Linked DNA regions of Homo sapiens: region 1 is linked to region 2. Evidence: fine-mapped expression QTL. Tissue or cell type: whole blood. Region 2 holds a variant in brackets; the other region holds the start of a gene. All regions are shown on one strand. Distances are from middle to middle.

What was found. PIP is the estimated chance that this variant, and not a neighbour inherited with it, causes the effect.
Region 1: TMEM50A starts here. The variant in region 2 is fine-mapped to the expression of TMEM50A in whole blood (INTERVAL, PIP above 0.99).

The regions. Positions count from the first base shown.
Region 1 is chr1:25,333,058-25,343,330 of GRCh38, forward strand. It overlaps TMEM50A (transmembrane protein 50A), which reads left to right and starts at 5,277. Exons shown (of 7, transcript NM_014313.4): 1 at 5,277-5,399; 2 at 7,417-7,522; 3 at 9,904-10,016. The coding sequence starts at 7,430. It also overlaps a transcript of RSRP1 not described here and the pseudogene LOC124904723. RefSeq lists an enhancer at 1,701-2,231 and silencers at 3,821-4,115, 5,107-5,226.
Region 2 is chr1:25,386,001-25,394,000 of GRCh38, forward strand. RHCE (Rh blood group CcEe antigens) reads right to left here. Exons shown (of 10, transcript NM_020485.8): 4 at 5,994-6,141; 5 at 4,749-4,915; 6 at 2,976-3,113. Among named protein-coding and RNA genes, the nearest start is that of RHCE, 31 kb to the right of the region's middle. The variant C/G (reference allele first, on the strand shown) is at 4,874.

The DNA of each region.
Region 1 (10,273 bases), 52 kb before region 2:
CCAACAGCCTGGGATCCTGAAATCCAAGGGCAGGAATGGAAGCGTGTATTCCAGCTCCAAGAGAGTAAGACCAATTTGCCTTTCTTCCGTTTTTGTTCCAAGCCAACTGCACGTTGAGGGCGGATGGTTCCCTCTTAGCCCATTCAGTCATATATCAATCTCTTCTGGAAATACCCTCACAGACACACTAACAAATAATGCCTTTCCAGTTCTCTAGGTATTCTTTAATCCAGTCAAGCTGACACCTAAAATTAACCATCACAAAAGTTAAGGAGAAAGAAGACAACTTGTAGGAGAGGCTGCTATGCAAGACAGTGTGTGAAGGAAGGGCTCTCTGAAGAGGTTAATATCTGAGCAGAGACTTGAATGAAGTGAAGAAGTGAGCCATGTGGGTATGGGGAATACAACTTCCAGGTAGAGAAGACAAGTGTGGTGTGTATCACGGTCAGCAAAGAAGCCATGTGACAGAGAAGGGTGGGCCAGGGAGAGACGGATAAGTGATCTAACTCCTGAGGAGGTGGCCTGGCCAGGAGCTAGAGCATGAGGATCTCGTAGGATTTTATTCTGCAAGGTGAAAAGCCATTGTATTAGTCTGTTCACAAACCCCAGACTAGGCAATTTACAAAAGAAAGAGAGGTTTAATGGACTTACAGTTCCACATGGCTGGGGAGGCCTCACAATCATGGCGAAAGGCAATGAGGAGCAAGTCACGTCTTACGTGGATGGCAGGCAAAGACAAAGACAGCTTGTGCAGAGAAACTCCCCCTTATAGAGCCATCAGATCCTGTTAGACTTATCACTATCACGAGAACAGCACGGGTAAGACCTGTCCCCATGATTCAGTTACCTCCCACTGGGTCCCTCCCACAACGCATGGGAATTCAGGATGAGATTTGGGTGGGGACACAACCAAACCCTATCATTCCACCCATGGCCCCTCCCAAATTTCATGTCCTCACATTTCAAAACCAATCACACCATCCCAACAGTCCCTCAAAGTCTTAAATGATTTCAGCATTAACTCAAAAGTCCACAGTCTAATGTCTCATCTGAGACAAGGCAAGTCCTTTCCATCTATGAGCCTATAAAATCCAAAGCAAGTTAATTACTTCCTAGATACAATGGGGGTACAGGCATTGGGTAAATACAGCCATTCCAAATGGGATAAATTGGTCAAAACAAAGAGGCTACAGGCCCATGAGAGTCCAAAATCCAGTGGGGCAGTCAAATCTTAAAGCTCCAAAATGATCTCCTCTTGACTCCACATCTCACATCCAGGTCACGCAGATGGAAGGGGTGGGTTCCCATGGTCTTGGGCAGCTCTGCCCCTGTACCTTTGCAGGGTACAGCCTCCCTCTCAGCTGCTTTCATGGGCTGGCATTGAGTGTCTGCAACTTTTCCAGGTACACGGTGCAAGCTGTCGGTGGATCTACCATTCTGGGGTCTGGAGGACCTCTTCTCACAGCTCCACTAGGTGGTGCCCCAGTAGGGACTGTGTGTGGGGTCTCTGACCCCACATTTCCCTTCTGCACTGCCCTGGCAGAGGATCTCCATGAGGGCCCTGCCCCTGCAGCAAACTTCTGCCTGGGCATCCAGGCATTTCCGCACATCCTCTTTAATCTAGGCGAAGGTTTCCAAACCCCAGTTCTTGACTTCTGTGCACTCGCAGTCTCAACACCACATGGAAGCTGTCAAGGCTTGGGGCTTGCACTCCCCGAAGCTACAGCCCAAGCTCTACCTTGCCTCCTGTCAGTCATGGTTGGGAGTGGCTGGGATGCAGGGCACCAAGTCCCTAGGCTGCACACAGCATGAGGACCCCGGGCCTGGCCAACAAAACCATTTTTTCCTGATATCTCTGGACCTGTGATGGGAGGGGTTGCCATAAAGACCTCTGACATGCCCTGGAGACATTTTCCCCATTGTCTTGGGAATTAGCATTTGGCTCCTGTTACTCATGCAAATTTCTGCAGCCAGCTTGAATTTCTCCTCAGAAAATGGGAATTTTTCTTTTCTATCACATTGTCAGGCTGCAAATTTTCCGAACTTTTATGCTCTGCTTCCCTTATAAAACTGAATGTCTTTAACAGCACCCAAGTCACCTCTTGAATGCTTTGCTGCTTAGAAATTTCTCCTGCCAGATACTCTAAATCATCTCTCTGAAGTTCAAAGTTCTACAAATATCTCGTGCAGGGGCAAAATGCCGCCAGTATCTTTGCTAAAACATAACAAGAGTCCCCTTTGCTCCAGTTCCCAACAAGTTCCTCATTTCCGTCTGAGACCACCTCAGCCTATGGACTTTATTGTCCACAGTGCTATCAGCATTTTGGGCAAAGCCATTCAACAAGTCTCTAGGAAGTTCCAAACTTTCCCACATTTGCCTGTCTTCTTCTGAGCCCTCCAAACTGTTCCAAACCCTGCCTGTTACCCAGTTCCAAAGTCACATACCCATTTTTGAGTATCTACGGCAGCACCCCACTCTACTGGTACCAATTTAGCCACTGAAGTAGTTGGAGAACAGAAGTAATAGACTCTGGTTTACATTGTAAAAGCTTCTCTGTGGCTGCTGTGTGAAGAAAATATATGAGAATGAAGCCCCAAGATGAAGCAGGGACACAGTTGCAGTGGTTAGAGTAAGAAATGCTGCTGGCTGGCACTGAAGTGATAGCCTGGAGGTTTGTGTGTGCACATGCATGTGTATGTGTTTTACGATAGTAGGCCCAACAGATACTGTAATCCACACTTGTTTTTTTTTTTTTGAGACAGAGTCTCACCTGTTGCCTAGACTAGAATGCAGTGGCACAATCTTGGCTCACTACAACCTCCACCTCCCAGGTTCAAACAATCCTTGTGCTTCAGCCTCCCGAGTAGTTGGGATTACAGGTGTGTGCCACCGTGCCCAGCTATATTTTTTGTATTTTTAGCAGAGATGGGATTTTGCCACATTGGCCAGGCTGGTCTTGAACTCCTGGCCTCAAGCAATCCTCCCACCTTAGCCTCCCAAAGTGCTGAGCCACCACACCTGGCCGCAACTGATTTTTAATCATGAAATGACACATACATTTAAAAAACCCAATACCTATAATATTCCTGGCTAGTACTCTTCACATCTATATCATCAAAAACAAAGAAAGTATGTGAAACTGACACAGCCAAGGGGAGACTAAGGAGACATAACAATTAACTGTAATGTGGTATTCTGGAGGGGATCCTGGAACAGAAAAAGACATTAGGCAAAAAACTAAAGAAATCTGAATAAAATGTGGATGTCAGTTAATAATAATGTATCATATTAGTCCAGTAATTGTAACAAATATACCACAATAATGAAAGCCATTAATTATAGGGAAAATGGAGGGGTTAATATGGGTGGCTGGCTTTTGCTATTTCTAGCAGCTCCATTTTATCTACAAAAGACAAACATTCATTAAGTCCCAAAAAGGTAAAGAATGACAAATTAAGCATGTATCTTATTAGTAAGAGTAATATAAAGATGCTCACTCATATTTATAAATATTTGACAATCATGTTAAGGCCAGAAAAGAGAAAAAAGGGTAGGGGCAAAAAACGCAAAGAGAAAGGAGTTAGTATCTTTTCTCCCGCACTCATTAGCTATTAAAAGAGGATGTTTGTTTAAAGCTGCTCAGAGCTGGTAAACTAATGTTAAGTCACTAACGGGAATTTAAAAGGTTTCATTAAGAACTGCCTGCACTAGATTCCTCCACCCTGAGACATTAAACAATCACGATAAACCTCCTGAGTGGTAAGAACGTGTCCATTTAAAAACAGGCTATAGATTGTCATGCAGTTTTATCTACTAATCGGCTAATGCACCGCCAAAAACAAACAAAAAAACCCAAAGGGATGAAAGTTTCATCCATCAAAGGAAACAACAGTCACCTTGGTTCCCATCCCACTCATATACTGCCGCCGTACATGTCAATCAGATGAACCTGTGCGTATCTCTTAACGACAATTGACCCACCTTTTTAACTGAAGTGAAGGGGGGTTCTGCTCCGCGACCACTTCCTGGATCTCTCCCTTCACCCTCTGTGTTCTTTCGGGTGCACCATCGGGTCAAAGCCGCAGCAACGCCGTCTCTGTGTGATCGCATGTGCCCTTCTGCACACGACCTTCCCCCGAGAGTGACCAGCTACCGGACAGGCACCAAGGAGGGCTACCGAGCACCTCCCGGACCGGCGGCTGCAGGATCGCGAGCGCCTCCGCTAGGGAGACCGCACGTTGCGCCTGTGCTTCCTGCGGTGGCGCCTTCTGCAAGGAGACCTCGACCCTGCTCCCTCTCCGGGGCTGGATCTGACTCCTTGACGGTGATTCCAGACGCGAGACCCAAACTGACGGCTTCTAGAAGAGGGGCGAGCCCGGCCGCAAGTCTTTCACGTAGCTAAGTCATCGTTGCTTCCGGCTTCTTACCGTTCTCCCCTTTGTAAACGGTTACCTCCCGAAAACCCAGGCTCTCCTCCAACAGTGGTTCTCAAGCGAGGCGATCTTCCCCGGGAGGGGATATTTGGCAAAGTCTGGGGGCATTTTTGGTTCACTGGGGCTGCTACTTGCATCCACTGGGTAGAGGCGGGGGATGCAGCTACACAACCTGCGAAGCACGGGACAGCACCCTCCCCAACCCAGACAGAATTAGCCGGCCCAAAACCTCAGTAGTGCCCAGGCTGAGAAACCCTGCCTTAAACAAACAACAAAGAAAGGCCAAGTCCCATAAGTGGGTCACCGCGCCGAGACTGGGGTCCACGGGACACCCCAGCCACGCCAAGCCGGGAAGTCCCCGCCTCCTGGAGCTGAACCCGCCCCTCTCCCAGAGGTGGAGCTGCGGGGGGCGGGAACAGGCACGGAGAAAATAAACAAGACTAAAAAGTCCTGAGTAGCGCTGTGTGGCCGCAAACCTGAACCCACCTTTTGCACCACGCGGGACCCGGCACTCTTCCTGCCACCCACCCCTGAGAGGGCTGCGCGGCCGACCCCAGTACTAGAAAACACTCGTCACCTCACTCAAGACGGGTACGAAGGCCAACGGACGCCTTCCTTTAGAACGCTCAGCACACAGAGCAACTTCTCACGCCTACTCTCAAATGGCGTACTCCAAACTAGCACTCCCGACGTCCAGCTGTGAACCCAGAGCGGCGGAAAGCCCCTGAACCCAGCGCCCGGGCATGCGCAGACGCGTTGTTGTGGTGGGCGTGGCTCCCTCCGGACCCGGCGCCCCGCCCTCCGCCCCGTGTCCGCATGCGCGACTGAGCCGGGTGGATGGTACTGCTGCATCCGGGTGTCTGGAGGCTGTGGCCGTTTTGTTTTCTTGGCTAAAATCGGGGGAGTGAGGCGGGCCGGCGCGGCGCGACACCGGGCTCCGGAACCACTGCACGACGGGGCTGGACGTAAGTGTCGGGCGGGGAGTGGGGGTAAGAGAGTAGCGGCCGCAGGCTGGAGAGGCCTCGGAGCCGGGGCCGTCTGACGGGCTGGTGCCCACAGCACAGGCTCGTTGCCGCCACCCTCCCGGAAGCCGCAGACCCGGGCTGAGCCGCCGCGGACCTCTCCTCTCCTGGGTCCGGCGGCGCCAGGAGAAGGCGACGGCGTCCAGACCCCGCCAAGACGGAGAGGGGACCGCGCCCTCCCCCGGGACACCCCAGGATCCCTGGAAAATCCCCCGATCCCCCACTTCACAGCTGGACAAGCCGAAGCCCCGAGAAAGGAGCGTGACCCGGCCAGCTCCCTCAGCGAGGGGTGCCCCGGCTAAAGGTGGCTCCCCCATCTTCCAGCGGCGTCCCTCGAGACCTAAAAGTCCCAGAGTTTGGAGGGCGGGGTCTGGCTTGAGCGTACCAGTCGTCGTGCAAAGAAAAATGGATTCGGGGTGGGGCCATTGGGATGAACCGAAAATAACACTTATTGAATTGCAGTTCTTCCCGGGGAAGAATCAAATGAGTGAATTTCCTAAATTGAACTTGTCCCAAAGGCATCTTAGCATTGGCTGTAATCATATATTTTAATATTTAATTTTTAAAAGAGAAGTTAAAAATGGGAGACGTTGCTCTATTGTAGGGTGTCATATTTTTGGACAACCATAATTGCTGGCTACAAAGTATCTTAAGGAAGTCAAGTTCGCTGTAGGAGTTTGGGTGTTGTTATTCGCAAGTTATATGTATTTCAGGCTTTTTCATACTCTGAAATAGAGATAACATGGCTGTATCTCAGGTCTCTACTGCTCGGCTTACAGGAATGTTTTATATAATTTGTAAAGACAGCTTGGGTCGGCTATATTTAAATAGCAGTTGGATTTTTGTAATCTGAATTACTATTAACCACGATTCTGTGCTTGCTTTTGGCTGGAAACACCCGTTAGGATCAGAGATAGGGATATTAAAGTGGATGTTCTTTATATAGAAATGACACCAAAAGGCAGGCTTGCAGAAAGAAAAATAATGAATGAAGTGAAAGGAAATGATGTGGGTAGAGGTAAGAACTGCAGTGCAGTGTTTAATTTCTTGATTTAGGTGTGAAGAAACACACGTTCTGTGATAAAATATGTAAATTAGAGAAATATTTTTCATTTGAATCTGTAATTCCACTCAGAGCCAAAGTTTATCACTTGTCTCTCTACTAATGTTAGTGCTCCTGGACTGTAAATATCAAATTCATTTAATAAGTTTGGAATCAAAATGATACAAAAGAGCTCCTGTGGATTAGTAATCATATACTTGGTATTAAAAGTACCACCTAAACTAATTTAATACCTACTTAGAAATAATAGGATGTGACAGATTTTCAGGAGGAGGTCAACCAGTAGTTAAAATTTTTTCAATATTTGGAGACCCACCTTTGTTAATACTGCTTAAATATATCCAAACCATTTATTTCTATTTATTTATTATTATTTTTGAGACAGAGTCTTGCTCTGTCGCCCAGGCTGGAGTGCAGTGGCACGATCTCGGCTCACTGCAACTTTCGACTCCCAGGTTCAAGCGATTCTCCTGCCTCAGCCTCCCAAGTAGCTGCGATTACAGACATGCGCCACCACCCCCGGCTAATTTTTGTATTTTTAGTAGAGATGGGGTTTGCCATGTTGGCCAGGCTGGTCTCAAACTCCTGACCTCAGGTGACCCACCCACCTCAGCCTCCCAAATTGGTAGGATTACGGGCATGAACCACCACGCCCGGCCCCCAAACCATTTTTTACATTAAAAAAGATACTAAATGAATCCAGATATTACTTTCCAAAGTTATAATGTGGAAATTCATCAAAAACTAAATCAAATATTCTGAAGAAGTATGTGGAACCAAAATAAAGCATTTGTAATTTCACTTTTATCTAATTATTCCTGAGCTATTAATTATTTTTCGGGCTTGAAGCAAGTAAATGGAAGTACTTATTTAATTGTTTGTTTGTTTGTTTTTAAGTGACCTGAAAAAAATGTCTGGATTTCTAGAGGGCTTGAGATGCTCAGAATGCATTGACTGGGGGGAAAAGCGCAATACTATTGCTTCCATTGCTGCTGGTGTACTAGTAAGTGTCATTGATTATTTGGGCCTTATTTTTTGGTGCGTTTGTGTTTATGGGTTTTGAATTCTGCAGGATGTTTTAAAATATGTACTATTTATTTTATCTTTGACCACTTTGACCATGTTGATATTTTGTTGTTTGTGGAGAGTTATTAGTTCCACTTTAAGAGTTTATGGTTTAAAATTTGATTAACAAGTGGTTGGGTTGTTTTAACTGCATGGTAAAAATGGCATAATAAAACATTTGTTCATTATATGGATTATATCTCCTTTTAATGAGTATATTAAGGTACAAGGAAGTGTTTAAGACGCAGTCAGGTCAAAACCAGTCAATAGATGTGATTGCATTTCTCCATAATCCAGTTAACTTTCTTCTCAGTCTCAGGGAAAAAAAAGTGCTCGCTTTGGCAACACATACACTAAGATTGGAATAATACAGAGAAGATTAGCATGGCCCCTTAAAATTTTTTTTTAAAAAGCAAAAACAAAAAGGAAACTCATTAAAATACATTGTGTGGAAGTAATTTACAGAATAAAATTCTTATTTACACTTCAGATCCCTCAAGGGATCTGCTATTAGTTTTTTATGATCATATGGTGTCGTAGGCTCTAAAGAGTAATTTTTTATTTTTATTTTTTGAGATAGAGTTTTGCTCTTGTTTTTTTGTTGTTGTTGTTTTTGTTTTTTTTGGTTTTTTTTGAGACGGAGTCTCAGTCTGTCGCCCAGGCTGGCGTGCAGTGGCGCAATCTCAGCTCACTGCAAGCTCCGCTTCCCGGGGTTCACGCCATTCTCCTGCTTCAGCCTCCCGAGTAGCTGGGACTACAGGCGCCCGCCACTGCGCCCGGCTAATTTTTTTGTATTTTAGTAGAGACGGGGTTTCGCCGTGGTCTCGATCTCCTGACCTCGTGATCCGCCTGCCTCGGCCTTGCAAAGTGCTGGAATTACAGGTGTGAGCCACCGCGCCTGGCCTTGCTCTTGTTTTAGTAGAGACGGGGTTTCTCCATGTTGGTCAAGCTGGTCTTGAACTCCCGACCTCAGATGATCTGTCTGCCTCGGCCTCCCAAAGTGTTGGGATTACAGGCATGAGCCACCGCACCAAGCCATTTTTTCTTAAGCTTTAAGATTTATTTATTTTCGAGACAGGGTCTCACTCTGTCTCCCAGGCTGGAGTACAGTGGTGAAATCACTGCTCATTGCAACCTCGACCTCCCGGGCTCAGGTGATCCTCCCACCTCAGCCTCCGGAGTAGCCTGGACCACGGATGAAGGCCACCACACCGGGCTAATTTTTGTTTTTTTTTTTGTTTGTTTTTTTTGTAGAGATGAGGTCTCTCCATGTTGCCCAGGCTGGTCTCCTACTCCTGGGCTCAAGTGATTCACTGGCCTTGGCCTCCCAAGGTCCTGAGATTACAGGCTATTGCACCTGGCCAAAAAGCTTTGAGTTTTTAGTCTATGAAGAAAATATCTTAAATACATTGAGCTGAGGGTAAAAAGAAAGGCATATGTACTCATGCTAGCCATTAAAAATGTTATTAATCGAGTATGGATCTGTCTGTAACCTGATAAAAGTAATTTGACTAGCCTAAAATTGTTACTTTAAAATAATTGCCAGAAGATGTCAGTTGCCAGAGCTAACTGAGTCAGGGTTTGGTGTGGGGATAGGAAAGGAAAGGGGGTTACTTTTAAAATCTTCTAGGCTACTTGTCAGAATTTGGTTAATATAATTTTATTGTAAATATCTGCTCAGATGATAAAAACTGTTTTTGAAGTTTTGGCGTTATTTTGTTATACCTTTGCCCTTGATAATATCTAGAGCCAAATTCAATTAGATAAATTGTAATCTGGTGTTTAAATTAAATTTAAAATCACACCTGAAACCATATTTAGACTGCACTGGAATTCATCAAAAGCAGAACCTCAGAGCTGTTATTTCACACCAAGAAGATAGCTAAAATTCTGTGAACAATAGTTGTTCTCCATATTAATTTGAATGCTTTTTTCTTGATTTTGGGGAATATTTCTCTGGAAGTTTATCATATATCAACAGGACACTTCTGTCAGTTGGAATTGGAGTCACTTTTTTCCTTTCCCCCTCCATGAGATAACTGGTTTCTAGTTCACCAAATTAGATTACAAGGCTTTATTATGATAAAAATTAAATAATGATTGAAGTAGGCTTAGAGAAAAGTTATGTTAATAAATATAAATTGCTCTCAGATTTAAGGGTACCTAATCAGTTATTAGGCCATGTGCAAATTACATGTGGGAAAAAGCTAGAACATTTTTGAAATGTATTAAAAGGGATCTCCTCACTTAAATACCTTGCTTTTAGCCAGTGAGATACAGAATTGCTATGATTTCTCATTGGTATCACCTTTGTTTTAGTTTTTTACAGGCTGGTGGATTATCATAGATGCAGCTGTTATTTATCCCACCATGAAAGATTTCAACCACTCATACCATGCCTGTGGTGTTATAGCAACCATAGCCTTCCTAATGTAAGTGTCATCGTAATTGGCATTACTTACATAGCTTGCCACAAAATAAAAATGTTTCAAATATAGTTGCATAGATTTAAAATTCTAAATATTATCAGATTAACACACTGGACATGATTTAAAAGTCACACAGTAGAGATGGACTTATACAGAAAAGCAGCAGTCCTCTTTATTCTTTTTGTGTACCTCTCCACTCCCTCCCAGCTTCTCTCAGCTATTCTTTTATTTTATACCCCCAGGGTTTATAGCTTTATATT
Region 2 (8,000 bases):
TCAATGGGGAGTTTGTTGAAATGAAGAGCTGGCTTTAGTGGATGTGGGGTGGGGTCTAAGAGCATTTCTAACAAGGTCCCAGGTGATGCCAATGCTGCTCATCTACGGACCACACTATGAGTAGCAAGGGTCTAGTGTAGGCACTATTCACAATTTCAGCTGATAATTCCTTGTGATGGGGGCTGCCCTGTGCACTGTAGGATGTTAAGCATCATTCCTGGTCTCTCCCCACGAGCTGCCAGTAGCAGCCCTCACCCCACTGTGTCAACCAAGAACGCCTCCAGACATTGTCAGATGTCCCCTGGGGGGTGACCAAGACCCACTGGTCTAGCCCAAATTTAAGCACCATCCCAAAGACAACACAGCTGGTTAGAAAGAAAGCATGAGGCCACACCTCTAGATCCCTACTCAGTAATCCTTCCTCCCCATCACTCAGCCTCCCACACAGCCATGAGCCAGCAGATGTGGACACATATGCAAATTCAGTCAGGCTGGTTCCTTCCTTAGGATCCCCATTAGTCTTCAGAATAAAAATCCAGGTCGGGCACGGTGGCTCATGCCTGTAATCCCAGCACTTTGGGAGGCCAACGTGGGTGGATCACCTGAAGTCAAGAGTTCAAGACCAGCATGGCCAACATGGCGAAACCCCGTCTCTACTAAAAACACAAAAAATTAGCTGGGCGTGGTGGAGGGCGCCTGTAGTCCCAGCTACTCAGGAGGCTGAGGCAGGAGAATGGTGTGAACCCGGGAGGCAGAGCTTGCAGTAAGCCAAGATGGCGCCACTGCACTCCAGCCTGGGCAAAAGAGCGAGACACCGTCTCAACAACAACAACAACAACAAAACACACACACACACACACACACACACACACACACACAAATTAGCCAGGCATGGTGGTGGGCACCTGTAATCCCAGCTACTCAGGAGGCTGAGGTAGGAGAATCACTTGAACCCAGGAGGTGGAGGTTGCAGTGAGCTGAGATTGCACCACTGCACTCCAGCCTGGGTGACAGAACGAGACTCTGTCTCAATAAATAAAAAAATAAGTAAATAAAAATCCAGACCCCTCAACTAGCCCAGGAAGTGTGCCTGAGCACCTCCCATCTTTCAGGGATCTGGGTTCACCATGCTCCTGGGTGGACCCTATGCCTTCAGAATGTCTGTTTCCTGGTTGGGCCACACACTCTTCTTACCAATAAGCTTTCATACACACTGTGCCTTCTGCCTGGAATACATTCCCCATGTCTCTGCCTGGCTAATACTACTTCTCTGTCAACACTTGGCTGTCAACCGTTTCCTCTGCTCCAGGAAGCATTTCCGGACCCATCCCAGGCTAGCTCAGATGTGCCCTGTAGCTGTTCTCACACTGTATTCTGTGTATCCATTTCGCTCACTAAACTATAGCTTGAAAAGCAAGATGAGTGTTAAAACGTATGTGTTGAATGAAGGAATGATGAATGAATGAATATATGAATGAATGAGGGAATCATTTTTGAATAGTCCTGCCAGTGATGAAGTCAAGGAAACAAGCTCAGGGAATGCGATGGGCGCTGAGCCTGATGGTAACTTGCTATGTGTTCTTTTTTCTGCCCTTCCTCCTTTCATTTCAGGGTTTCAAAGCCAGAGGAGATAAAAGAAATTTGTTCCCCTTGCAAAGATGAAAATCAGATTTGCCCTGGTTTTGGTCAATCGAAGTATTGATACGTTTTTCCTTATTTATTTTATTTTATTTTTTAATGACCTCCAGTTCCATCCATGTTGCTGCAAATGACAGGATTTCATTCTTTTTATGGCTAAATAATATTCCACTCTGTATATAAAACACTTTTTTTTTTTTAAGACAGAGTCTTGTTCTGTCGCCCAGGCTGGAGTGCAGTGGCGCAATTTCGGCTCACTGCAAGCTCTGTCTCCCAGGTTCAAGTGATTCTCGCATCTCAGCCTCCTGAGTAGCTAAGATGACAGGTGCCCGCCACCACGCCTGGCTAATTTTTGTACTTTTAGTAGAGATGGTTTCACCATGTTGGCCAGGCTGGTCTTGAACTCCTGACCTCAGGCCATCTGCCCGCCTCGGCCTCCCAAAGCGCGTGAGCCACTGCGCCCAGCCAGTTTTTCCTAATTTTAGGTTGGAATGCACTCCCTGAATAGCCCCTGTTCATCCAAATCCAGCCTTCGAAAATCTACTCCTTTTTCCTCCATCAAGTCTTCAAACCCATGAAGATTTGTTGTCCCTAAATATTTCTCTTAGAGAAGCACATTATAACCAATTGGCTATAATGAAGTATTCTGGAACGATCAGGATTTGCTGAGTATTGGAGAAAGATCCATCCACTTAGAAGAAGAATTAAACAATCAGAAGTGGACACGACCTGGACCATCAGCCCAGCACTCCCTCTTCTGGGTGCTGCTCCTCTCACATCATCCACGTGGTTCCCCGGCAGCAGCCACATATGCACGATGTGCCCACCCCCAGCTGAAGACAACATTATCCAAGTTAAACCAAAGAGCCCCTTCTCCAGAGAATTTGGGATTGGGGCCAAGAGATTCCATCCACCAGGCTGCTTTCTTGAAGCAAAAGACTACACCCCACAATGTGGGGTGAAAGAGGAGGAAGCAGGTCTATAGAGTAAGAATAAAGCAGATATTCAGGAAAAGCAAAGAAAGAAGTAAAACAGGGGCTTCTGGGCTCCCCACAACACTCCAGTCCCTGTCCTTGAGTTCTGTGACACCCCTGTAGCCTGGTAACAAATTCTCCCCAGTGCCCAAGCAAGCTCAAATGGGTTCTGCCACCTGCTCCCCAGCATCTTAACAAATGTGCCACCGAGCCAGGATGGATCCCTCGCTAGGCGTTGAAGCCAATAAGAGAATGCACCAACACCTGCCTAATGCAGCTGTGCACTGCACAGTGGCCCATCAGGTCCCAGCGTCCTGCTGGCCTTCAGCCAAAGCAGAGAGCATTAGTTGTCTAGTTTCTTACCGGCAGGCACTTGGCTCCCCCGATGGAGATCAGCCCAGCCACAAGACCCAGCACCATGGCAAGCCACGGAGAAGGGATCAGGTGACACGAGGTACCCACAGCCACGCCTCCTGCCAACACCGCACTGTGCACATAAGTCTGCAAAGAAATAGCGTGTGGGTAAAGGAAGCAAGGTAGAGAGAGAACACCATCTTGCTGCAAGTGACCAGCACGCTGGGAACAAGGCAACCCTGTAACATCCTCCCTGCTTTGCTGATCCTGAAACCACCTCTCCCCTGTGTTGGGGCTACGTGTCCTTCATCAGTGGACACGGTGGGCCAGCTCACTACTGCCTCTTAGGCTCAGGGCACAGTTACCCTGATTGTGCAGCATTTAGGGAATGAGCTGGGAAGTCCAGGTGCTCAGCATCCTAGGCACCCATCACACTCATTAGTGGTGTGTCCCTGGACAGCGGGAAGAATGGGTTTTTGTTTTATTTTTTAGAGACAGGGTCTTGCTATGTTGCCTGGGCTGGTCTTGAACTCCTGGCCTCAACCAATCCTCTTGCCTCAGCTTTCCAAAATATTGGGATTACAGGTGTGAGCCACTGCACCTGGCCTAGAAGAATGGGGTTTTGGATGTACCTTCTTCATAAGGTTATTGTAAGGATTAAATGAGTTTCCACATATAAAGCTCTTAGTCCAGTGTCTGGCATAGAACATGAATAAATGCCCAATAGACATAAATCATTGTTATTGTTTTTATTATTATTATTGGCTACTTGGTGCCTGTGCCACCCTGTGTGACTGGTCCCAGTTCCAATAAGCTGGGCCTTGTTCCTGGGTTATAGCTCTGCTATGTCCTTCACTACTCCAGAACCGGAGCCTTGCCTTGCTCTTATCTGACACCCTCAGCTCTCACCTAGGTTTAGCCTCTGAGCTTCCCTGAGCTGACACCCACTCCTGCCTTGCTAGGTGTCTTAGACTTTCTGTCACCATGGAACTCATGGCCACTCACTTCCTCTTAGCACTGAATTCTGCTGTGAAGCTGTCATCTGTGGCCACATTCTTTCCACTCCAGCCCCCCCAGTGCCTCCCACCCGAGCCCCACCACTGGTCTGTCCAGACTTCCCTCCGACACCACCAGCTGGACCCCCTGCCCCCATCATCATGAGAACTTGTTTTGTCTCCCCTCTCACCCATCTCTGCCCACAAGACTCACACACACCATTGTCTCTCTGTACTAATAGCAGCAGCTAATGTTTGCCTACCATTTACTCCCCGTTAAGCACTTTACATGCACCATCTCTTAATTCTCACTTTACAGATGAGGCCACTGAGACTCAAAACGTTGAAGTGGCTTGACCAGAGCCACATGGCTAGTGTCACATACTTCTCTACTTCTGATTCTGATGGTTCCATTCTTGAAATTTGTTGGGGGGAAGAGAGAGGCTGGCTAATTCTAGTCTAGTCTGTTGCTGCTGACTCTCGCTCATGGTGACTGACTTGAGCAACTAGCAGAAACGGGGTTCAAACTCAGGTCTGTTTCATGTTAGCATGGATGGATTTAATCACTCCCCCCAGAAAGCCTTTGATCACTGGACAGTCTCCTGAGTCCCAGGCCCCCTGTGACCACCCAGCATTCTTCCTAGAGCTCCACTGTAGAGGCAGGCACAGCTCCACCACCCGGCATGCCCTCTCCCAACCCACGCTGGCCCTGGGGTGGGGAGGGGCATAAATATGTGTGCTAGTCCTGTTAGACCCAAGTGCTGCCCAAGGGCAGCGCCCTGCTCACCATGCTGATCTTCCTTTGGGGGTGAGCCAAGGATGACCCTGAGATGGCTGTCACCACACTGACTGCTAGAGCATAGTAGGTGTTGAACATGGCATTCTTCCTTTGGATTGGACTTCTCAGCAGAG[C/G]AGAGTTGACACTTGGCCAGAACATCCACAAGAAGAGGGCGCCTGGGGGCCAGAGAGGGTGGTTGGCCAGAATCACACTCCTGCTCCAAAGGTCTGAGCCTCGAGGGGTTTTGGATGAGAATCCTAGGGCTGGAGAGTCTCAGCCTTGTCACTTAGAGTTAGATGGGGAAGTCACGTCTCCCCTCCGAGCTCTCAAGCTGATACCAGCTAACCACATTTTACAGACAAGGAAACAAAGGCCAAGAGGGTTGAAATCTGCATACCCCAGGCCTCCTGAACCTGCTCTGTGATGGTCAAATGCTTATTTTAATTTTTTTTTCTTTTTAATTGAGATGGACTCTTGCTCTGTTGCCCAGGCTGGAGTGCAGTGGCGCGATCTTGGCTCACTGCAACCTCCACCACCTGGATTCAAAAGATTCTCCTGCCTCAGCCTCCCAAGTAGCTGGGATTACAGGCGTGCACCACCATGCCCAGCTGATTTGTTTGTATTTTTAGTAGAGATGGGGTTTCGCCCTGTTGGCCAGGCTGGTCTCGAACTCCTGACCTCAGGTGATCCACCCACCTTGGCCTCCCAAAGTGCTGGGATTACAGGCTTGAGCCACCACGCCTGGCCCAAACGCTTATTTTTTTTTTTTTAATGAATGTGCTGCTTTAACTTGACCCCGTGGCCTGATAGTCCTTTGCCTACTATCAAGCTCACTGCCCGATTTTCTATTAGCCTCTCCCAGCAGTCTAAGTTCATCATTTTCCCAGTAGATTTTCAAAGTACAACATTATTACTATTCCCACCCTTGTTCCTTCACTCCTGGGCCCTACCTTCTTCACTTGTCCGTTTCCCTCCTTTCAGTTGAAAACAAAGGGATTGGATAAACTTATTGAAACTCACACATAATGAGTCTCTCCTTTCTAGTGGATATTAATGAAGAGAGGTCCCTAAAAGGAAGTGCTTAATTCAAAGGTATGAATTTAGCAAACACTACTCAAAGAAGTGAATCATGATGGAAGGGCTTCAGACACCCAGGGGAAGTTGGTAAAGGAGGGAGATTTTTTCAGCCAGAGCCTTTTCTGAGCCATTCTGCTCAGCCCAAGTATGAGACCACTCACCCCACCTTGTCCTTACCCAGCATGGCAGACAAACTGGGTATCGTTGCTCTCTGATCATTATCCTCCGTTCCCTTGGGTAGAGGCTTTGGCAGGCACCAGGCCACAGTCAGCCCAAAATAGGCTGCGAACACGTAGAAGTGCCTCAGGTTCATGTGGTAGTCTGTCTGCAATAAAACCCAGTAAGAGCAGTGAGTGTCGGCATCCTCTGCCCAGGGGAAAGCCCTGATGGTCCTTGGAGAAAGTTCAGAGCTTCACTTAGGAGGTGTGACTTGAAGCCACGAGACTGGTGTTCAGAGCTTACCCAGCCCAACCCAGCAGGCTTTGCCCAGGCTGGAGTGCAATGGCACGATCTCGGCTCACTGGAACATTTGCCTCCCAGGTTCACGCGATTCTCCTGCCTCAGCTTCCCTAGTAGCTGGGATTACAGGCATGCGCCACTACGCTGGGCTAATTTTGTATTTTTAGTAGAGATGGGGTTTCACCGTGTTTGCCAGGCTGGTCTCAAACTCCTGACCTCAGGCGATCCACCCGCCTCGGCCTCCCAAAGTGCTGGGATTACAGGCATGAGCCACTGTGCCCGGCCTCTTTTTTTTTTTTTTTTTTTTTTTTTTGAGACAGAGTCTTGCTCCATTGCTCAAGCTGGAGTGCAGTGGTGTGGCCACAGCTCACTGTAGTCTCCAACTCCCAGGCTCAAGCAATCCTCCCACCTCAGCCTCCTAAGTAGCTGGGATTACAGGAGTGCACAACCATGCCTGGCCAATTTTTAAATTTTGTGTAAAGATGGAATCTCACTATGTTGCTCAGGCTGGTCTCGAACTCCTGGGCTCAAGAGATCCTTCCCTCCCAAAGTGCTGAGATTACAGGCATGAGCCACCACGCCCGGCCTATCAGTAGCTCTTATATGCTTTTGACCAAGGTTCACTTAGGTGTGGCAAAAACCCACATGGACACGCACTTCACTGATTCCTACTTCTCAGCGGAATTTTAACTCTGCAGGAGTGATGAGTGATATAAATTTTGCAACATGAAGCAACCAGACTTCTTGTAATACCAAACTAAGGTCTTCGGGAGATTCTAGATATATTCTAATTTTGCATCATGACTATCACATTTTAGTAATGCTTCATAACTTATTTAGTGGGCTACTGGAGAAAGCTGTCAGCTGTGCTTTCTAAAAATACCCAGAATTGGCAGGATTTTTAGCACCATTTCCCACTGACCCCATCTTGGTTTAAGCCACCATCACCGCTACCCCAAATTGTTACAGTAACCTCCTAACTGGTCTCCCCATTTCCACCCTTGTCTTCCTGCGGACTGTTCTCCACACAGCAGACAGAGTGACCCTGTTAAAATGCAAGTCAGGCCGGGCGTGGTGGCTCAAGCCTGTAATCTCAGCACTTTGGGAGGCTGAGGTGGGTGGATCACCTGAGGTCAGGAGTTCGATACCAGCCTGGCCAACATGGCAAAACCCTGTCTCTACTAAAAATACAAAAATTAGCCAGGCGTGGTGATGCTTGCTTGTAATCCCATCTACCTGGGAGGCTGAGGCAGGAGATTCACTGGAACCTGGGAGGCAGAGGCTGTAGTGAGCTGAGATGGCGCCACTGCACTCCAGCTTCGGCGACAGAGTGAGACTGCGTCAAATAAATAAATAAAATAAAATGCAAGTCAGATCATGTTACTCCTCTGCTCAGAAGCCTCCAGCGGCTCCCATGTCACTCAAAGTCAAGGTCCAGGTTCTTGCCACGACCCTGCAGGATCCACTCTCACCTGACCTCTCGGGCGTCACCTCCTATTGCACTCCTCCACTTGCTCATCCTCAAACCCACTAGCGTGTTCCCACTTTGGGTCATTCAGCTGCCTGAAATGCTGACCCCCAGCCAGGGTGTAACAAGGGCAGGATGGAGGGAGTAGTCCACCCTGGGTGCAAGCAATCGGGGTGCCTTGTCTGCAGAGGGTGTCTAACAATTCTAAAGCCAACTAAAAAGTCTGTCTGCTTTTTATTTTTATTTATTTATTTATT